3 linked regions of the Homo sapiens genome follow. The main gene of each other region encodes a partner of the protein of the gene in region 3 in a complex. Each region holds a gene or a part of one and is shown on either strand. Other genes may lie near its edges. The genes, in order: LATS1, LATS2 and NF2.

The links.
Region 1: the proteins of NF2 (region 3) and LATS1 are in contact, whole or in part, in a crystal structure (PDB 7LWH), measured with the Homo sapiens proteins. Residues at the interface, in NP_000259.1 of Homo sapiens: Pro135, Glu136, Ala137, Val139, Leu140, Tyr144, Asn175, Leu176, Tyr177, Gln178, Met179, Met183, Trp184, Arg187, Trp191, Glu206, Ile210, Asp213, Leu214, Glu215; in NP_004681.1 of Homo sapiens: Pro69, Lys70, Phe71, Gly72, His74, Ala77, Leu78, Glu80, Ile81, Arg82, Ser84, Leu85, Phe88, Ala89, Asn90.
Region 2: the proteins of NF2 (region 3) and LATS2 are in contact, whole or in part, in a crystal structure (PDB 4ZRI), measured with the Homo sapiens proteins. Residues at the interface, in NP_000259.1 of Homo sapiens: Pro135, Glu136, Ala137, Val139, Leu140, Tyr144, Asn175, Leu176, Tyr177, Gln178, Met179, Trp184, Arg187, Trp191, Glu206, Lys209, Ile210; in NP_055387.2 of Homo sapiens: Tyr73, Ala76, Leu77, Glu79, Ile80, Arg81, Ser83, Leu84, Leu85, Phe87, Ala88, Asn89.

The regions. Positions count from the first base shown.
Region 1 is NC_000006.12:149,673,036-149,680,189, forward strand, and holds part of LATS1 (serine/threonine-protein kinase LATS1), read right to left. Parts: coding exon 6,840-7,154; coding exon of another isoform or gene 6,832-6,839; intron 5,711-6,831; coding exon of another isoform or gene 5,647-5,710; intron 3,703-5,646; coding exon 3,520-3,702; intron 3,332-3,519; coding exon 3,225-3,331; intron 1-3,224. UniProt on the Homo sapiens protein: Negative regulator of YAP1 in the Hippo signaling pathway that plays a pivotal role in organ size control and tumor suppression by restricting proliferation and promoting apoptosis.
Region 2 is NC_000013.11:21,058,587-21,066,507, forward strand, and holds the start of LATS2 (serine/threonine-protein kinase LATS2), read right to left. Parts: upstream 3,001-7,921; 5' UTR 2,760-3,000; intron 1,820-2,759; exon of another isoform or gene 1,544-1,819; intron 1-1,543. UniProt on the Homo sapiens protein: Negative regulator of YAP1 in the Hippo signaling pathway that plays a pivotal role in organ size control and tumor suppression by restricting proliferation and promoting apoptosis.
Region 3 is NC_000022.11:29,690,633-29,697,632, forward strand, and holds part of NF2 (merlin), read left to right. Parts: intron 1-4,119; coding exon 4,120-4,170; coding exon of another isoform or gene 4,171-4,177; 3' UTR 4,178-7,000. UniProt on the Homo sapiens protein: Probable regulator of the Hippo/SWH (Sav/Wts/Hpo) signaling pathway, a signaling pathway that plays a pivotal role in tumor suppression by restricting proliferation and promoting apoptosis.

The sequences.
Region 1 (7,154 bases), on a different chromosome or scaffold from region 3:
TTATATCATTTTTGAATAGGGGAAGTTTTTATTTTTTACTTCTTCCTTTTCTTTTCTTTTCTTTTTTTTTTTTTTTTTTGAGATAGGATCTTACTCTATTACCCAGGCTGGAGTGCAGTGGTATAATCATGGCTCACTGCAGCCTTGACCTCCCCAGGCTCAGGTGATCCTCCCACCTCAGCCTCGTGAGTAGCTGGGACTACAGGTGCACACTGCCATGCTCGGCTAATTTTTCTATTTTTTTTGTAGAGACACGGTTGCGCCATGTTGCCCAGGCTGGTCTCCAATTCTTGGCTCAAGCAATCCACCCGCCTTGGCTTACCAAAGTGCTAGGATTACAGGCATGAGCTACCGCGCCCAGCCCTTTTATTTCTTTTCATTGCTGTATTATGCTGGCTAAGATTCCAGAACATAGAATTGATGAGAATGGACATTCCTGCCTTGTTCTCAACCTTAGGGAGAAAGCATACAATTTTTTTTCTCTCTCTCATACACCTACACACAAATATATTCAAATGAAGACAAAATAAAGATAATTTCAGACATACCTGAGACAAACCTGAGAGAATGCCTTATCAGCAGACCTATACTATAAAAAATCCTAAAAGAAGTTTTAAAATGTAAAACCATTTCTTTTTTTTCCTTTTTTTTTTTTTGAGATAGAGTCTCACTCTGTCGCCCAGGCTGGAGTGCAATGGCGCGATCTCGGCTCACTGCAACCTCTGCCTCCCAGGTTCAAGGAGTTCTCCTGCCTCAGGGCCTCCATATAGCTGGGACTACAGGTACCAGCCACCATGCACGGCTAATTTTTGTATTTTTAGTAGAGACGGGGTTTCACCATGTTGGTCAGGCTGGTCTCGAACTCCCGACTTCAGGTGATCCACCCGCCTCAGCCTCCCAAAGTGCTGGGATTACAGGCATGAGCCACCACACCCGGCTAATGTAAAACCATTTCTATATTAAATGCAATGACTGAAGAAGTTATAGCTTAAGAAAGGTGGAAATCAAAGAAACGATGGAATCTCAGGAAACTCTCAAAGAATAATTTGTTTTTTTTAGACAGAGTTTTGCTCTTATTGCCCAGGCTGGAGTGCAATGGTGTGATCTCAGCTCACTGCAACCTCTGCCTCCTGGGTTCAAGCAATCCCCGTGCCTCAGCCTCCCAAGTAGCTGGGATTACAGGGGCGCGCCACCACACCCAGCTAATATTTGTATTGTTAGTAGAGACAGGGTTTCACCATGTTGGCCAGGCTGGTCTCAAACTCCTGACCTCAGGTGATCCACCTGCCTTGGCCTCCCAAAGTGCTGGGATTATAATAGGTGTGAGCCACCACACCCAGCCAAATTTTTTATTTTTTGAGATGGGATCTCACTCTGTCACCTAGGCTGGAGTGCAGTGGCACAAATATGGCTCACTGCAACGTCTCCTAGGCTCCAGTGACCCTCCAACCTTAGCCTCCCAGGTAGCTAGGACCACAAATATGCATTACCATGCCTGGCTAAGTTTTTTGTATTTTTTGTACAGAGGGGGTTTCACCATGTTGCCCAGGCTGGTCTCAAACTCCTGGGCTCAAGTGATCTGTCTGCCACGACCTTGCAAAGTGTTGGGATTACAGGTGTGAACCACTGCACCCATCCCAGCACTTTGGGAGGCTGAGGTGGGTGGATCACTTGAGCCCAGGAGTTTGAGACCAGCCTGGGCAACATGGCAAAACCCTGTATCTACAAAAAATACAAAAAAAAATGCACCTGCGGTCCCATCTACCCAGGAGGCTGAGATAGGTCATTTGAGCCAGGAGACAGAGGTTGCATGAGAGGAGATCACGCCACTGCATTACACCCTAGGTGAAATGTTTTGACCTTATCTCAAAATAAATAAAGTGCTGGGATTACAGACATGAGCCATCATGTCTGGCCCTCAAAGAATAATTAAGAATGATCAGGAGGCCGAGGCGGGCAGATCACAAGTTCAGGAGATTGAGACCATCCTGGCCAACACGGTGAAACCTCGTCTCTACTAAAAATACAAAAACTAGCTGGGTATGATGGCGCATGCCTGTAATCCCAGCTACTCGGGAGGCTGAGGCACGAGAATTGCTTGAACCCAGGAGGCAGAAGTTGTAGTGAACTGAGATCACGCCACTGCACTCTAGCCTGATGACAGAGCAAGACTCTGTATCAAAAAAAAAAAAAAAAAGAGAGAATGACCAAGAGTTAATTAGACTTCAGAAAGGAGGAAGGGTTATAGAAGAGAGAGATGGAAGTAGGACATTCCAGACAGAGGGAACGGTATGAACAGAGGGCAAATTTCAACTTTAACCCACGGACAATCACTAAAGAGTATTAAATCAGACAGTGTATGGTCAAAATTGTGGGTAACTTCTCATTTAAGTGCCAGAGGTATTTTCAAGTGGGGATATAAACATTTGTTTGTAGTTTGCATAGAAGGAGACAAGGCCAGGAGGCAGTAGGTGACAAAGAGTAAACTGGACTAAATCTTCAAAATGGACTAAAGACCTTTTTGTTTTGTTTTGTTTTGTTTGAGGAGTTTCGCCCTTTCACCCAGGGTGGAGTGCGATGGCAAGATCTTGGCTCACTGCAACCTCCGCCTTCTGAGTTCAAGGGATTTTCCCGCCTCAGCTTCCCAAGTAGCTGGGATTACAGGCGCCTGCCACCACACCCCGCTAATTTTTGTATTTTCAGTAGAGACGGGGTTTCGCCATGTTGGCCAGGCTGATCTCAAACTCCTGACCTCAGGTGATCCACCCGCCTACACCTCCCAAAGTGGTAGGATTACAGGCATGAGCCACCGTGCCTGGCCTAAAGACCTTTTTGAGAATGATATATGATATATGAGTATGCTGTATGAGTGAGGGGGGATACAAGATTATGGGGATATGGCATCATGGAGACTGGAGTTCACGCATGCAATTCTGGTGAGTTCCTATACCCTTACAAGTTCATTCTTTTCCTTTTTTAAATTAAAAAATATTTGTTTGTAGAGATGTGGTCTCACATTGTTGCCAGGCTGATCTTGAACTCCTAGGCTCAAGCAATCCTCCTGCCTCAGCCTCCCAAAGAACTGGCATTATGGGTGTGAGCCACTGCACCCGGCCCAAGTTCATTCTTTAACTCCAGACTAAAATGCTCTACGTACTAATAAATAAAAGTCAATGATGTAGCAACTTTGTGAGAATTCTTTTGATATAGATGCCATACCTTACCTTCATTTGTGTTTCTAATGGTGTTTGTGCCAAGAAAGGAGGTTGTCCCACCAACATTTCAAAAAGAATAACACCAACACTCCACCAATCACACAACTGTGTGTATCCTAAAATAACAAAGTTATTTATAAGCACTTTAAAAATGCTCAGAATACAATAAAAATTAACATTAAATCACCAATTTATACTTTAAAATTAATACTTTTATTATAAGCCTGAAAAATAAGGCATATTCTAGTGTCGTTTTGGCTGGTCTAAAGGTCTACTGAGAATATATATGAAAGAAGTGCTTTACCTGTTCGTAGCAACACTTCAGGTGCAATATAATTGGGAGTCCCAACCAAAGAATGTGCTAGACATCGCTGGTGCTGGCGTGCAGCTCTCCGCTCTAATGGCTTCAGTCTGTCTCCACATCGACAGCTTGAGGGATCCCCCCATTCATTACTGAAATCCATGCTATCTTGCCGTGGATGGTCACCTGCACAACAAAAGAATAAGTAAATAAAGTCAACAATGACAACAGTAAACCTGAAGTCTATTTAATCTTCTGACATCGTGGTTTAGGGTTAACAACATTCTCCCTTGTGACAAACTAAGACACAATGTATGCCAAATCACTGATGGTGTTTATTACCAATTAGAGCCTATTTTCTGAGATGTCAATAGGAAGGATTTTACACTTAAAAAAAATTAGCCTAAGATTTAGTAATTTATGCAATGTTAAATAACAACAATATGAGTCATGGGGAGATTAAGAGTTTGTTATTTAGCCCACTCCCTGTTACTACTCTGGACAAACTTTCAAACAAATTAGATCCATCTTTCATTCAATAAATGACAGTGATAATAAGACAAAGCTCTGGTTACATTCTAGTAGGAAAAGAAACAAAACAATTACACATATAAGGAACAGTGACATACCCTACACAGAGAATCAACACAGGGTGATGTAACAAATGTGACTGGATAGCTACATAAGACTGAATGGCTAGGGAAGACCAGTTAAGAAGGTGACTTCAGCTAAACCGTAAAAAAACAAGAAGGACTCAACCATTTATAAATCAGGATTAGGTATTCCACACAGAAATAACAGCAACAGAGAGAAGACCAGCACAGCTGATAAAGGGGAGAACTGTAGGAAATGGGGCAAGAACTGTAAGAAATGCGGCAGGAATACATGTGGGTTTTGCAAGCAATAGAAATGGTCTGCCTTTTACCTCAAGTAAAGTGAGAAGATATTGCAGAGTTCGAAGCAAGAAGATAACAGTATCTGATTTATGCTTAAAAAAAAAAGTTCTTTATGGGTCATGTGAAGTTTGAAAGGCCTATTTGAAATCCATGTGAAGATAGCCAGGAAGCAGCTGGATAGAGAAATTACGAATTTCAGAGAAAGGCCATTTCTGGAGAGAGAGATTTGGAATTCATTGACATATAGATGGCATGAAGTCACCTAGAATATAAGAAATTAACCTAACTGTAATATTTATCTGGGATGTTTGATTAAAATATGATTTCCCTTTGGGAGGCCAGGGAGGGTGGATCATGAGGTCAAGAGATTGAGACCATCCTGGCCAACATGGTGAAACCCCATCTCTACTAAAAATACAAAAATTAGCTGGGTGTGGTGGAGCACACTTGTAATTCCAGCTACTTGGGAGGCTGAAGCAGGAGAATCGCTTGAGCCCAGGAGATGGAGGTTGCAGTGGGCCGAGATCGCGCCACTGCACTCCAGCCTGGCAACAGACCAAAACTCCGTCTCAAAAAAAAAAAAACAAACAGGCTGGGCGTGGTCGCTCACGCCTGTAATCCCAGCCACTTTGGGAGGCAGAGGCAGGCAAATCATGAGGTCAGAAGATTGAGACCGTCCTGGCTAACACGGTGAAACCTGGTCTCTACTAAAAATCCAAAAAAAAAAAAAAAAAAAAAAAAAAAAAAATAGCCGGGCGTGGTTGCCGGCGGCTGTAGTCCCAACTACTCGGGAAGCTGAGGCAAGAGAATGGCGTGAACCTGGGAGGCAGAGCTAGCAGTGAGCCGAGATTGCGCCACTGCACTCCAGCCTGGGCAACAGAGCGAGACTCCGTCTCAAAAACAAACAAACAAACAAACAAAAAACAACAAAAAGATTTCTATGCCCCAGTGAAGATTTTTGATCAAAAGATGGGAATAGAGCCTAGGAATCATATTTTTAAGAAGCTTTCCAGGTAATAATTCAGTCGAATCTGGGAAGACACTAAATTCCACTATGTCGAACATTAAAGTAGGTTCAATTGTCTCAGTTCTACCCATTTTAATGTCAATCTACTTGTGTTCACAGAAGCACAGGAGGCTAATAATACTTACCTCAGAGAATTGTTGCGAGCATATTAGAATATATGGTTAAGCACCTAGTACATAGTATTTAACAAATGTTAGATTGACTTACACTTCCATTAGCGCTTGGAGGGATCTTGGTGAGGCAGTGTGGTGTAGTAGAAATAACATGGGCCCTGAAATCAGACAAACCTGGGTTCAAAGCCTAGCCCTTACACTTGATTTCTGTCTGACCTTGGGCAAGTTACTTCATCTAACTAGGTCTCAGTTTCTTCATCCTGCCTCACAGTGACATTGTGAGGATAAAATAGGATCAAGGATCATAAAGTGTTTAGGGTTATATAAGTTGTGTAACAGTCATGTAATGAAATCCTAAATAGTAGTGAAAATAAATGTTACAAGCAATAACATGGAGGAACCTCAAACAAGTCAACACAAAGAATATATATAGATTATATTTAAATAAAGGTTAAAGAGTAGGCAAAATGAAATAATATATTATTTAAAGATATACACATTTGTGATAAAAGGATCGATAAAAGTAAAGAACCGATTATAAAGTTCTGAAATAATAATTATCTTTGTGGAGGAGAAAAGGGGAAGTGATTGTTTAAGGGCTTCTAAAGTACTGATAATCTAGTTCTTTAACTGAATGTTGGATATGAGGATTCATTAAAAAATTATTTTAAAAATGTTTTTGGCCAGGCGCAGGGGGCTCACACCTATAATCTCAGCACTTTGGGTGGCTGAGACAGGTGGATCACCTGAGGTCAGGAGTTCGAGATCAGCCTGGCCAACATGGTGAAACCCCATCTCTATTAAAAATACAAAAATTAGCCGGGCGTACTGGCAGGTGCTTATAATCCCAGCTACTCGGGAGGCTGAGGCAGGAGAATCACTTGAACCCAGGAGGGGGATATTGCAGTGAGCCAAGATGGTGCCACTGCACTCCAGCCTGGGCGACAGAGCGAGACTCCATCAAAAAAAAAAAAAAAAAAAAATTGTTTGTCTGGCATATTTTCAAATAAAATGTAAAAGGTGTGACTCAAAAATGTTAATAATATTTAGAAACAATCAAGTCTAGCACATTCTTTCATTTCATAAGTCTAAACAATCAAGTCTAGCACATTCTTTCATTTCATAAGTCTAAGTGCCTAATGGAGTCACCCAAGTTTATCCAACAGAATCAAGACCTGACCCACATCTTCTGGCTCTCATCCAGTGATGATACCATCTTATATTTTACTACATCAATAAATTACATTATTATGAACAAACTAAAATAAATTTTATGAGTTTACTTACCACTCTGATAGTACTTAGAATCGTGTGTCCATCTGAAGCCAGTGCAGAGGCCAAAGTCAGTCAATTTAATATGACCATCACGATCAATCAAAATATTATCAGGTTTAATATCTCTATGAATAAAACCCATTTTATGAACACTTTCAACTGCACAGGTAAGTTCTGCTATGTAGAATCGTGCCAGACTTTCTGGAAAGATGCCCATTCTAATTAATAGGCTCATCATATCACCCCCAGGAATGTAGTCCATTACAAAGTATAAATTGTCCTTATCTTGGAATGAATAATATAGACGAACTACCCATTCATTGTCAG
Region 2 (7,921 bases), on a different chromosome or scaffold from region 3:
CACTTAAACTATTTCAAACTCGATGGAGAAGCCAGAAGAATCCCTTCCAGTTCTATAATTCAATGATTCTAGTAATTCACCTTGGTAATTTTGCAAGACAGGCTAGCCTCTGCTCAGATACCTTAAACTGCCTGAGATTTGGAAAGTTATTAAATGTTCACCAACTTATATTCAAAGGAATGCTGGTATATTCATTACACTATTATTATATTCAGTGCCTTCTATACCTGCATGAGACAAAATTTTGTGAGACACTGACTTGTTAATTACAGTTAAATAGACGTCATAAACAGTTTATACGTTCTCATTTTGGAATATTTTTTCTGTTACTACCTTATTACAACGGTTGTTACAGAAAAAAAAAAAACATACAAAGCAGCTTACCAAAAATATACAACAAGATTTAGCACAAATTTCCTAATAATCAGCCATGAGTTACTTTTTCCATGATTAAGGGAAGGCCCCTCATCTTCTAAGTTAAAATTTTAAGCAAAACACTTGTGCAAGATCACACACATTTTTGTGATTTCCCATTCAAATTTCAGTATATTTGTTTCTTATTAAAATACGGGCAAACTTTCCTTTAAAAATGTACGTATTTGTTGAATACTTTGTGAAAAGAGCTGTTCAGCTATTAATTTGAATTTTTTACCGGCCAAATGTATACTCTATGGCTTAGTAGTTAAGGTGAAATAATTTTTTTAATGCTATTACATTAAAAACACTCTTGGCTGGGTGCGGTGGCTTACGCCTGTAATCCCAGCAGTTTGGGAGGCTGAGGCGGGCGGATCACAAGGTCAGGAGATTGAGACCATCCTGGCTAATACAGCGAAACCCCGTCTCTACTAAAAATACAAAAAATTAGCCGGGCGTGGTGGCACACGCCTGTAATTCCAGCTACTCGGGAGACTGAGGTAGGAGATCGCTTGAACCCAGGAGGCGAGGTTGCAGTGAGCCGAGATCGCGCCACTGCACTCCAGCCTGGGCGACAGAGCAAGACAACGTCTCAAAAAACAACAACAACAACAACAAAAAACACTCATATCCATCCTAGAGAAGCGTGAAAATGTAAAAGTTCTTGTTCAAAATTCTTGTCAGGTGGGGCGCGGTGGCTCACGCCTGTAATCCCAGCACTCTGGGAGACGGAGGCAGGTGGATCACCTGAGGTCAGGAGTTCGAGAGCCAGCCTGGCCAACACGGCGAAACCCGTCTCTACTAAAAAATACAAAATTAGCTGGGCTGGTGGCGCGGGCCTGTAATCCCAGCTACGTGGGAGGCTAAGGCAGGAGAATCGCTCGAACCTGGGAGACGGAGGTTGCAGTGAGCCGAGATCGCGCCACTCCCCTCCAGCCTGGGAGACAGAGCGAGATCTTGTCTTAAAATAACAACATTTTTGTCAAAAAAATCTGCAAGTTAAGTTCTTTCATGGTGATCCTCGCAAAATAGCATTTCTCATCCAAAGGCCTCAGAACAGCCGCCAGCCGCCGAGCTAACTCGGGACCCTGTTACCGGCTGCTTGGCGCCCTGGTCGGGTGGGTTTTACCTTCTTCAGGGTCCATTCCTCGCCTCGCCCCCCGTTCCCAACCCTCGGGACACTGGAGACTTGCATTTCACAAACGGGTTTGCTCCAGGCCGCACTCCATCCCCGAGGGAAAGCTCCCCAGAAGTTCTGGAGTTGGGCTGAAGGATGTGATGGCAAGATGTGAATGATGTCAGAATCCCCATCTCCAGAGTCCGGCTGGGGAGCTAAGCGCAGGTGAGCTTACATCAGAAGAGAAAGCCAAACCCCCCACACGTCGCTAAACTAGGGCACGGGAATGGCGTGTTATGCAACGGCCGCCGTTCGCGTGGCCACGAAAGCGCTCCTGCGCCTCGGGCCGCGTCCCGCCAAGACCGTGAGCAAACTCGCAGAGTTGGCGCGGCAGCCGGCCGGGAGACGCCGAGCAGGGCCTGGCCGCCCGCAGCCCGGGAGGAACGGCGCCCCCAGGGTCCGGTGGCCTCTGAGGGGCTGACTGGCCCGTGAGCCGGCGGCGCGGCCGCGGGGAACGGGGTGGGAACCGCGCGGCAGTGGGTGAGGCGGCGCAGCCACCGGGGGCTGAGGGGCGGCGCGGCCTCGACTGCGGCACCGCCGTGGGTCCGTCGGCTCGCGGGACGACGGGGCGGCCGGCGGGGGCCAACAGGGCGGGCTCTGAAGGACTGATTGGCCCGTGGGACGATGGCGCGGCCGGGAGGATGGCCCCGGATCCGTGGGACCGCTGCGCCGCCGGACCGGGGGTCCCGAGGCTGTCAGGGGCGCCCGGCCGGGCGTCTAGTGAAAAGCCGATCCCCCGGAGACAGCGGAAGCAGAGGCGCGCCCGGCGCTACGGCCTTTCGGGTCTAGGACACCGCCCCCGGCCCGCGCCGCCCCTGCCCCGCCGGGATCCCGGCCGCCCCGGTCGCCGCACAACAAAGCGGCGCAGCCCCGCTGCCCCCGCCCGACGCCGGCCTCCAACTTCCCCGGCTCCTCTGGAACCGGCTCCGCGGGCTCCGTACGGCCTGGACTACGAGCCGCCGGGCGGGGGCGGCTCCGGGCGGGCGCGGACCGTGGGGGCAGGGCGCAGGGCTCCGTCCGGACAAACTTCCTCGGCCGCCCCGCCGGGCGCCCTTCCCGGAGCCTCGGCACCACAGTAGGTGCGCGGAGCCGCAGGGCTCGACCGCTTCGCGGAAACTCTCGCCACCCTCCGAGCTGCCGCCCCGACCCCAGCTCCCAGCCCCCTCACCTCCAGGGGCGCGGTCTACACCCTCGGGGGCGTCCTGGCCGGCGGCTCCCGGGCCTCTCGCGCCGGGAGACCGGGCACTGGTGGCTGGAGCTGCTGCTGGCCCCGCAGGGACGGGGGAGCCCCGGGCGGCGGCGGTGGCGTGGACGGCGACTGCTCCATCTTCCCGGGGCGCTCACGCCGCGGTTCCAAAGCGCAGACCCAAGTGGGACATTCGCTACATTGTTGGCATTCCACGGGCGTCACGTGACCCCGCCTCCCGCGTCACTCTCGGCCGCATACCAGTCCGGGCGGGGCGCCTGCGGCCCCTGCTCCTCCGCGGCCGCTCCGCCCAGCCCCGCCCGGCCGTGCTTCCTGCCTCCGGCCTCGACCGCCACCTGCCCACGGCCTCCCTGCTGGCCTGCGGTAGCTCGCCAGGGCCTCTCGGACCTATTTGACTGGCTGCTATCTGCCCCCAAACTTGAGTATTTGCCCTCTCGACTGCATTTGTATTAAAAGTTGGTAACTGTCGTTAAAGCCACTATTCTTAAGTATCTCATACCAGTCTTGGTGAAAGAAAAAAAAAAGTTAGCAGGCCTGAAGGAGCCACCAAGTTACCAACTAGTGGCTGGACACTAAAAATAGGGGCAGAAAAGGACAGACGGCTATTGGGACAGTGGAATCAAACAATTAAGAAGGACGTTTGCCAGAAGCGGTGGCTCACGCCTGTAATCCCAGCACTTTGAGAGGTCTAGGCGGGTGGATCACCTGAGGTCGGGAGTTCGAGACCAGCCTGACCAACTTGGAGAAACCCCCGTCTCTATTAAAAATACAAAATTAGCCAGGCGTGGTGGCTCATGCCTGTAATCCCAGCTCTTCGGGAGGCTGAGGCAAGAGAATCACTGGAACCCGGGAGGCGGAGGTTGCGGTGACCTGAGATCGCATCATTGCACTCCAGCCTAGGCAAGAAGAGCAAAACTCCGTCTCAAAAAAAAAAAAAAAAGAACGTCTGATGCACACCCAAATTTAACCTGATTTAATTTAATCAACCTCCCCTCCCCATGTATATTTTCTTTCTGAGAAGTATTTTATGGTGTAGGGAATAGTATAGTACCGTATATACCAGCAAGTGAGGTCGTGGGTTTTGAACAGCTTCACTATCCATTTGAGGACTGTGGATCTGGTACAGGGACAGAAGCAGGGATGGTGCAAAGATTCACAGTAGAAATAATAGACTGGAAGCCAAATCCTCAGTCTACTTCTGGCTCTCCTAACATCATACTTCCTACCACCTATATCTGTGGCAAGTGATGCTGAGGGTCAATATAGTGTTTAAAGTCAACTCGATTTCCTCTTTAATTGACAAACTCTTGTGAAATTTTTAAATTTTACTCTCATGGGAAACAGTAGTAAAGGTCATTATCTGTGCACTATTTTGACAGTCTCACCCAGCCTTCAGTCCCTGGTTCATCCTCCTCCCCTCCCTCTCTTTCAATCTCTTAAGGCCTCAGCTCTTCCAGGGAATCTTCTCAGATCTCTGTTTTCTCTCTTCTTTGGGCTCTGATAATCAAACCGTAATCCCTTCCTGCCAGCAGAAGTGTGCAAAAAAAAAAAAAAGAAACCATCATCGTGCAGCTTAGAATTCAATTTAATTTTTCGATAGTATCCTGTATGCTACCCAGATATCTTGCACAGTACTGGGAGCAAAATAAGTCTCCAGCCAATATTCTGCAATTGAGCCCTACTGGCATTACCTATGTACTTTTCCACATTTTTTCCTTTTTTTCTTAGAGACAGAGTCTCACTCCATTGCCCACGCTGGAGTGCAGTGGCACAATCATAACTTACTGCAGCCCACATCAGCCTTGAACTCCTGAGCTCAAGCCATCCTCCTGCCTCAGCCTCTAGGGTAGCTGGGAACACAGGCGCACACCACCATGCTTGGCCTTCTTTTCACTCTTAAGCTGACTATACTTTCTCCACCCCAACCCCAAGCCACATGGCTGCTAATCTTTTTTTGTTGTGTGTTTAAAGATCCTGCTCCTGCTCTGCCTTCAAAGATGTAAAAATAATTTTTAAAACACTTGTGGAATGAAAAATATTATAAAATAGATTTAATGGACCTTAAAATTTGTGCATAAAATACCTAATAAAAATGTTGCAGTTACAATGATCATTTCAGCATTGTTTGCAGTAGTGAAAAATTGAGAAAAACCCCAAATGTCCAGTCAAGGGGTAGGAAAATGAAAGGTAGATATCCAAATGATGGAATATACACAGTAGCTAAGTTAATGAACTAGCTCTGTAGTTGTAAAGGATAAATGATGGTAGAAAGAATTCAAAAGCACTGTGGAGTGAAAAAAAGCAAGTTGCAGAACTATATATATACACTGTGATACCATATTTATAAATAATCAAAATCCCACAGAACCTAAAATGATCACATACTTTATATAAGTATAGACATAGAATGCAATATCACACACACCAAATTCATGACAGCTGTTGTTTATATTAGAGGGAAGGAGGGAAATTGAGCAGAGAAAAAAAATGAAGACTTCAACTTTACAATGCTTTCTTTTATTTAAAAAACGGAAATAAAACTCAAAATCTTAAAAGTTGTTGGTTCTGGGAGGTTGGGTTCAATAATGTGTGCTATACTATTCTTTGTGCCTTTTTTAAAAAACATTAAAAATTTTAAATTTTATATATATATATGAATACAGACAAATTGGAAACAAGTTTCCAAGATAGGGGCTTGGTTGGGAAAGCTGACACGCTCACATGGAAGAATGTTGTGATTAACGATTTGTGTTTATTAACATGCAGTCATTCATTCCTTCTCATTTTTGTTTGTTGTTGTATGTTTGGGTTTTTGTTTTGTTTTCTGTTTTGTTATCGGTACCTGCTATGAACCATGTGCTAAAATTAAAAAACCCATGTTTGGGTTTTTGTTTTGTTTTGTTTCTGTTTTGTTTTGTTATTGGTACCTGCTATGAGCCATGTGCTAAAATAAATCATACTTGGGATAACATGGTAAGCAAAACCATAAGATTTATCCCCTGATGGGGTTTATAGTGTGGTAGAGGTAGAGGTGTTCAAGAAAAACACATGCTGGGCATGGTGGCTCATGCCTGTAATCCCAGCACTTTGGGAAGCTGAGATGGGTGGATCACTTGAGGCCAGGAGTTCGAGACCAGCCTAGCCAACAGAGTAAGATCCCATCTCTACTAAAAACAAAAAAAAGAAAGGAAAAACAGCAACAATATAAGTTTATTTTATATGTATATACAATAAACTATGTACACATGTATATTTTTTAAACTATTTTTAAAGCCCAGAAAATTACACAGCCAAATGTTAAAAGTGGTAGTCTCTGGATGTAGTGTAGTGATTCTGAATGGTTTTGTCTTATACTTCCTGATACTTCTATAGTAGGATAGTTAACATAATTTTTTTTCTTTTTTTCTTTTTCTTTTTTTTTTTTTGAGATGGAGTCTTGCTCTGTCGCCCAGGCTGGAATGCAATGGTGAGATATCAGCTCACTGCAACCTTGCAACCTCCATCTCCCGGGTTCAAGCAATTCTCCTGCCTCATCCTCTGGAGTAGCTGAGATTATAGGCATGCTCCACCATGCACGGCTAATTTTTGTATTTTTAGTAGAGATGGGGTTTCACCATGTTGGCCAGGCTGGTCTCGAAATCCTGACCTCAGGTGATCTGCCTGCCTTGGCCTCCCAAAGTGCTGGGATTACAGGCTTCAGCCACCATGCCTGGTCCAGAAAATGTTTTAAAGTTAATCAGTTAAATAAGCACATCTACATAATGTATCTAGCTGAGAAGAGGAGAAAAAGAGACAACACAAGACCAGCTGAGCATAGAGCGGACAGTAGTAACAAAATTGGAGTGTATAAATTAACTGACATAGTATATACATATGTGTATGTGTGTGTCCTTATTCTATACCAAGTATTGCTCTAAATTTGTATATTATATCATTTAATTCTCAAAACGACCATGTTATTCAACCCATTTTATAAAAAAGGATCCTGAAATGCAGACGGCTCAAGTAACTTGTCCAAGATCAAAGAGCAGAGATTCAGACCTTCATAGATCTAACTCCAGAGATTGGAAACACTGAATTATAATGCCCTCTCTAGATAATCTCAAGAAGTCATGAGGCTGGGCATGGTGGCTCACGCCTGTAATCCCAGCACTTTGGGAAGCTGAGGCTGGTGGATCATGAGGTCAGGAGTTCGGGACTAGCCTGGCCAAAATGGTGAAACCCTGTCTCTACTAAAAATACAAAAATTAGCTGGGCGTGGTGGCAGGCACCTGTAATCCCAGCTACTCGGGAGGCTGAGGTAGGAGAATTGCTTGAACCCAGAAGGTGGAGGTTGCAGTGAGTGGAGACCAAGCCACTGCACTCTAGCCTGGACAACAGAGCAAGACTTCATCTCAAAAAAAAAGTAAAAAAAAAGGCACATGATTACAACATACTCATAAGTAAGGAAACTGAAAACAAATTACTCCCTTATACTTCCTCTGAAAGGGGAATGGACTTTGTGGAGTGAGGAAGAGGGGAACTCAGAGACTTGTGTCTCCAGCCTCAACCAAAGCAGAGAACGATTCCAGGCCTAGCAGACACAGAGAATCCACTTGCTTGTGAGGCCTCTGCAGTTGTGAAGCCAGGATAGTGTAGGGGTTCTCTCCCTAAGGCTCCTATAGAATATCAACTATGGCTGGGTACGGTGGCTCACACCTGTAATCCCAGCACTTTGGGAGGCCGAGGCGGGCGGATCCCTTGAAGCCAGGAGTTCTAGACCAGCCTGGCCAACGTAGCGGAACCCTTTCTCTACTAAAAATACAAAAATTAACCAGGCATGGGGGTACATGCCTGTAATCCCAGCTACTCAGGAGACTGAGGCACGAGAATCGCTTGAGCCCAGGAAGTGGAGGTTGCAGTGAGCCGAAATGGCGCCACTGCACTCCAGCCTGGGCGACAGAGCCAGACTCTATCTCAAAATAAAATAAAATAAAATCTGCCTAACTACAGAAGAATGTTCTCTATGGGCAGTAGCATAAAAATAGAATAGGATCAGATCATGCAAGACCCAGACAACCGAGAAGAAAACGGAACATCGACTTGTTTCATTTGTTTTAGAGTCGTTTTATATCCATATACAG
Region 3 (7,000 bases):
TCCTCAGAATGGAATTGGATTAGTGACAGACTTGAGCAGCCGGTTCAGTCGAGAGAGAACTTAATTCCTCCTGTGTTATTCACACGGCTGATTCTAATCAGATGTGAAGAGACAGCTGGAGGAGAGCAGCGGGTCAGCCCATGCCTGGTGCGGAGGCTTCATGTTCTTGTAGGCATCTTCAGGGAACTGGCAGGAGCGCTTTGGGTTGGAGACTCTGAGCAGGGCCCTTGGGTTTATAGCCTGCCCAAGGAACTGGGCCTGGCTGCGGGACTCCCATGGTTGGACCTTGTCTAGATTCAGTGAAAGTTTTGAAGGACAGTGCATGACAGACGTCACTGGTCAGGTTCACCAGAGCTTGGCTCACTTGTCTTCAGAAGGATTCAAAGGCAGTTGACCAGACTTGGCAAGTCCCAGACTGGTGCAGCCACTGTCCTCGAGACCCTGGTTGTACACCCTGAGGTGCTTCTGCTTCATTACCTGCTGAAATTTGGAGACCTCTTCTTCCTGGATAACCTTCAAGATACTCATTGTGCATGCGAGGAATTCCCCGCCCTCCTGGGGGGACTCCACTCCCCAGGCAGGCAAGGTTGGGCAAGGGGAGGGCTGTTGCTGGATTGCCAAAGGGAGCATGGACATTTTTGTTTGGAATTCAGGGTGGGAATGGGACTCACCAGAGTGGCTTCAGTGCTCAACTCACAGTGCAACATAGGACAAGGTGAAGGCCTTCTTGGGAGGCCTCTTCTGGCTCTAGCAAGCAGGTGTTGCTGGGCAGTGTAGAGGGACCCAGGCCGGTTGCTGAGCAGGAAGATGTACCTAACACTGATGGGCCTGCACACCTTAGGGTATGAGAGCATCGCAGGGGAACCAGGAAACTTGTTAGCTGGTTTTCATGTGTTTAAAAAGAAGACTCGGAGGCAGAGTTTATTTTATGAAGGGCTAGCTTTTTGCCATTTCTTCTGAGCTTTTGCCTTTTCCTTTATGAATACTTCCTGCCTATGGGTGTACTGTAAATGTAACAGCCAGTGAGCTTTCTAGAAGCAGCAGATGGTGAAAGATCCACAGGTGAGGAGCCTGCCCACTGGAGGGGCGAGACAGTGCCCAGGCAGGGCGTGCAGGTGGCAGAGCTGTTTGCATGCTCCGCGGGGTGGCTTCCCAAGCTCTCTGTAGAAAAACTGCCTGAGGGCAAATGGCTCCACTGAGCTGCTACCTGCAGGAAAGAAGCTCAAGGGCTCTCCTCGTCTCACTGCCTGCCTTCTTCACCTGCTGGGAGGAGGGCATTGTGGTGTCTGAGATAAAGGATACCCCCAAGGTGGAAGCAGAGCCATGGGGGTGGCCTCCAGCAGCAGGGAGGAGCATTGTGCAGTAAATTCTGACTCCGGGGCTCCTGTGGGGATTGGAACCCATAGGAATTGCACAATGAGGGTAAAGGATGGGGCGGCAGCAGCCAGGTCTGTCTAAGGGGCGAGCAGCAGTGGCCGAAGGCTCCCAGGGCCCTCGGGCAGCAGCCCTTGCTGACCAGTGCAGCCAGGTCGTGGCTGCCTCCAGCTGGTGGGTCTGCCTTCCCCTCTGACCGCCTCAGTGCCTTCTGGAGGACTGTGGCTCTCTCTCCTGCCCAGTGGCTGTGGTGCCTTCCTACTTCTGTGTGGGCAGACTGATTTCCCTCTCTACCTTTACTTGTGGCTGAGGCGAAGCTCCTGCTCTTGCAAGATAAGAGGTGGGGCTGAGGCGCTGCAGTGCAGCTCAGGTGGGGCTCAGGAAGCACCCCACCCACCCCAGAGCACTCTGCATCCTAATAAGCACATGCTCGAGTCACTGGAATCTGGTGCTGCTGGCAGTGCCAGAACCCTCCCCTAGCACCTCGAGGGGACAGCCAGCATGCTCCTCGGGTGGAGGATCCAGGAATTCTTGGAGCCAACATTGCACAAATGGGCAGGAGCCTCTCAAGGCCCCCACAGCCTGGGCTCCCTGCCTGGGGAAGTGGCCAGGCTTCATAGGGGCATCACTTGGCCCGCCTGGTAGGCATGGAGGCCAGTGCCATACGTGACCTTGTTGTTGCCTGCACCCCTTCCTAACGAGCACCCTGCTCCCCACTGGAAGGAGAGGGGCCAGGGCTCCTCCCTCCCCAGGGAGGGGAGAAACGTGATGTTGCTATTAGCAATAACAGCTGCCGAGTTCCCACCATGCGCCAGGTGCAGTGTTGAGTGCATCACACGCGGTTCCCAATTCCTCTGCCTGTCACCCCACGAGGAAGGGGCTGCCATCACGCCCGCTTCACAGTGAGGAACTGAGGCTAGAGGGGAGCAAGTGACCTGCCCAGGGCCACACAGCTGGTCAGTGGCCCAGCTGGGCCTTGCACCAGGCAGCTGACTGTGCCTGTATCTGACTCAAAGTGGCTGTTCTTTTCAGAAACCTGAGCGGAGATACTGGGCTCACATGCTTTCATTTAAACCCTCTCTCATTTTTGCCCCAGTAGTTATCTGGCAGCTAAATCTCTTCCTCCTTTCTTCCCCAGTGACCATTCTGGTTCCCATCATCACAGGGCACATAACTCCTGGCCCTTCTCCTCTGATTACATTTAGGGAGAAGCCCATCCTGATGCAGCTCCCTTCTAGAGGGAGTTCCATTTAGGCAAAAAAGCGCTCTCCATTCCCATCAGAACCGGGCTTTCCAAAGGGCTCTGAAATTGGTTCCACTGAAGAAGGCAGCTGAGCTGCCTCCCCACATTCCGCTTGTTAGTCGGGAACTTCAAGGCCAAAAGATTTGGCAGGATTTAAAGAGTTGCTCTCAAGCTGTCTCATTCTGAGCACACTAATGCTGTCTGTCTTCTGATGGTGAAGTGGTGGGTTTGGAGTCTCCCTCCCCTGCCCTTTATGGAGCCGCCGATAGTACCGAGGACTCTTCACATGCAGACTCGAGGGGTCCAGAGAATGGGCCAGACCATCTTGCCTGCCCCATGGCAACCTCCAGAGGAAAGAGGCTCAGAGAGGTCAGGGGTGTCTGCAGTGAGCTGCTGATGGCAGAGAGTGAGCTCTCGGACCTTCTCAGCCGGGTGTGGAGCTCTTGCCTCTCCCGCGAACCTCAGTTTAGTTATCTTCATAGCCCACGTCCTGGTCGCTTAACAAACATTGAGCTCCTGATCGGCACATAACACTAAGCCAGATATTTGGGGGATATGAAGATGAATGGTACAGACTCCCTCCCCTCCACCCCCGCACTCCTGTGGGAAGTCCCGGAGCTGGAAATGGAACACAGTCACACCCAAGGCATTGATTTCAGGAGTCAGCAGAGAGCAGGGAGTAGGGAGAGTGCTGGCTCCAGATGCTTCTATCCAGGGAGATGCTGGGAAGTGGCCCAGAGTCAAGGGCTTAGGAGGTTGCAAACCTCACTATGCCAAGAGCTCGGTCCCTGATCCACCCCATCCCCTTCCACATCTCCCTGACTGTCCTTCTTTACATTTGCTGGGCAGAGTGCCACCTGTGTGCACCAGCCCTCCCTGCCTGCACAAGCCACACTGAGAAAGCCGTTGCCTCCAGCTCATGGAGAGAAACACCTTCTCAGCTGCCACGTCATGAGCAAGTTTGCTTCGGGACCACCTGGGAAACCAGGAGTAGAAGGGGTAAACTCTTCCTCATCTGCCACAGGCCTGCCTTGCCTCAGGCCACGTCACCTTACCCCAGCCATGTTGCCAGGGCATGAGGACTAAGATGCTTGCCCTGCCAAGCCCGGAGGGGATGAGCAGCCTCAGCTGGTGCCGCCACAGACAGCACACCACAGAGGTGGCTCAGGGACCTTGGTAGATGGGAATGTGAGAATCTATTAAAATAGGCAGGGATCTCCGGTCCTCTGTCAAGAGGCAATGCTGACGGCTTTTTCCTGCTGGCGTGCCTCTGCCCACCAGCCTTCCCCTTGCACATCCTCATTTGTCACCTCCTAATTTGAATTATTGGGCAAATCTGGCCGCTTATTTGGGACTGACAGCCAACTTCTTGAGCATCTATTTGAACAGCCTTCCCTTTCGCTCCCAGCCACCTTTGAGGTGAGTCCAAGTGGCAGGACAGGACCCTGTGTGACAGAGCGGAGGTCTTGTGCCCTCTCAGCTTCTTCTCTGCTTTCTTACAGCTCACCTTGCAGAGCGCCAAGTCCCGAGTGGCCTTCTTTGAAGAGCTCTAGCAGGTGACCCAGCCACCCCAGGACCTGCCACTTCTCCTGCTACCGGGACCGCGGGATGGACCAGATATCAAGAGAGCCATCCATAGGGAGCTGGCTGGGGGTTTCCGTGGGAGCTCCAGAACTTTCCCCAGCTGAGTGAAGAGCCCAGCCCCTCTTATGTGCAATTGCCTTGAACTACGACCCTGTAGAGATTTCTCTCATGGCGTTCTAGTTCTCTGACCTGAGTCTTTGTTTTAAGAAGTATTTGTCTTCCTTTGTCTAATGTGGGATTCCTGACTCCCTTCGTCCAAGGCACCGGTGTGTGTGTGTCTTGCACTCCAGAGCTGACCTCCACCGCCCAGCCTGGGAAGTCATTGTAGGGAGTGAGACACTGAAGCCCTGAGAAGCCAGTGCCATCATCCCCACCCCGCCCAGGGTTCCGGAACATTCATTCCCCCACCGGTGAGGACCTGGCATGCAGCGAAGCAGCCCAGCCCGGCGGATCCCAGGCCAGCACGCCTGCCGGCTTCTCATCGTCAGGGAGCCCGCCCAGAGCTCGTGACGAGCAAGTGCTGGGTCCCCGCCAGGCACCCCGAGGCGGCGCTCTGGCTGGCAGCTGGTGGGGAATAGGCAGGGCAGCTGTGGCTGGGGAGAGACTTTAGGCAGAAGCTGTGATGCAGGCTGACTGCCAGCCGAGGGGCTGGGTAGTGCCGTGCGGGAGCTGATGGTACAGGGCACTCGCTGTCCCCCTCCGGCCACCCTAGACCAGGGTCCGAGAGGCAGGCAGGAGCCACTCATGTCTTCCCCATTGCCCGACGCCCATAGACGCTCCTTCCTGTGTGGGGCTGGGGTACTCCCTGGTCGTACTGCAGTCAGCACCCGTAACCCGGCTATGACCAGGGATCTGTAAGCCCTGTGGCTCCACAGGTGCTGCTTCTCACTGGCCCAGACTCTGAGCTCCACCGGCCCAGTCTGCACGGCCCATCTGCTTCACCTTCCCTCCCAGCCACGTGCCAGTGGCCACAGCCCACTTCCCAACCCACTGTTGTACCCAGGCCTCACTTTGCTGTTGCCCTTGTCCCTCTTCGGGCCCTGAATTTTCTGTTCCCTGGGGGCCAGCCAGGGCCCTTTGTGCCCCTCCCAGCACAGGCCTGATGCAGGTGTCCACTCACAGGTGGCGCTCACCTAGGCTGTCACAGGACCCACCTCCATGCCAGGCAACAGAGGGCCACAGAACCACCCCCACGGCTCACTCCTTGGTCTGGGGCCACCTTCTTGCCCTTTCTTTTTTTTTTTTTTTTTTTTTTTCCGAGATGGAGTCTCTCTCTGTCACCCAGGTGGGAGTGTGGTGGCACAATCTCGGCTCACTGCAACCTCCACCTCCTGAGTTCAAGCAATTCTCCTGCCTCAGCCTCCCAAGTAGCTGGGACTACAGGCATGCACCACCACACTTGGCCAATGTTCTGTATTTTTAATAGGGACGGGGTTTTGCCATGTTAGCTAGGCTGGTCTCAAACTCACACCTGGGATTACAGGCATGAGCCACTGCACCCAGCCCCTTCTTGCCCTTTCTTTTCTCCATGGCTGATGCTGCTGTGGCCAGCCAGGGCCCTTGAGATCCTTCCAGTTTGGCTGTTATGCAAAGCAGGTGATTTGTCTTAATCAGATAAAAGATAGAGGCTATGGGGGCCTCAAGATTTTTGGAGAGCAGAGGTGGTCTCTGGCAATTCCATCTGGTTTTGAGAAACTTAGCAGCTCACAGAGCACAGAGATCCTGCCTTCTTCCTACTATCAGGCTGACCTAATGGGGTTGGGCTGCTCGGCAACTGCTTGGGTCACCTTGCCCCAAGGAAACCAGCCCTGGGTGCCACCCAGCCACTTAGGGTCTACAGGGTGGGACTCCAGACCTAGAGCGTAAGTATGGATGTTGTGGCCCTGTGTCTTCCTAGTGTGACCCAGCCAGGAGCGGAAGCTTCAGGCGTTTGTAAAGTGAGGTCTGGCTCTGCCTCCTCCGTTTTTTTTTTTTTTCTGTTTCTGTTTCTGTTTTTTTTTTGAGATGGAGTCTCGCTCTGTCGCCCAGGCTGGAGTGCAGTGTCACGATCTCAGCTCACTGCAACCTCCGCCTCCCAGGTACAAGAGATTCTCCTGCCTCAGCCTCCCGAGTAGCTGGGACTACAGGCGTGTGCCACCATGCCTGGCTAATTTTTGTATTTTTAGTAGAGATGGGGTTTCGCCATGTTAGCCAGACTGGTCTCGAACTCCTGACCTCAGGTGATCCTCCCACCCCGGCTTCCCAAAGTTCTGGGATTATAGGCGTGAGCCACCATGCCCGGTCTCTTCTCAGTCTTGAAGCCCATCCCTGGATTTCCACCAGGAGTTACTTTCCTCCTGACCTGTAAATTTGTTCTTTAACAATGGCTGCAGGTGGGAGCATATGGTGGTTTATAAAAACGCTGTCGGGCTTTGTTTCCTTCTTTAGCTGCCGTGTCTACTTCTGAAGTCTGGGAAGTGCCAAGCCACGCGGCCTCAAGGGAGCTGGCTGGTGTTTGAGCTGTGGCAGAAGCACCTGGGGCTCCAGGGAGCAGGCTGGGAACTGCAGGACCTTGCTCAGCCAGGAGCACTTCCCCCTCCTTGAGGCAGGAATACTGAGGTGCCTCCCCACAGATGGAGAAGGTGGAGAGGAGGATGGGCCTCAGGAGCATCTCAAGCCCCAGTAGCAGGAGAAAGAAAGAAAGAGATGCCTGGTTTTCACAGACTGGTTCCTGTGGCTGGGATGACTGCATCCTTTTTTTTTTTTTTTTGAGACGGAGTTTTTGCCTTTGTCGCCCAGGCTGGAGTGCAATGGCGTGAT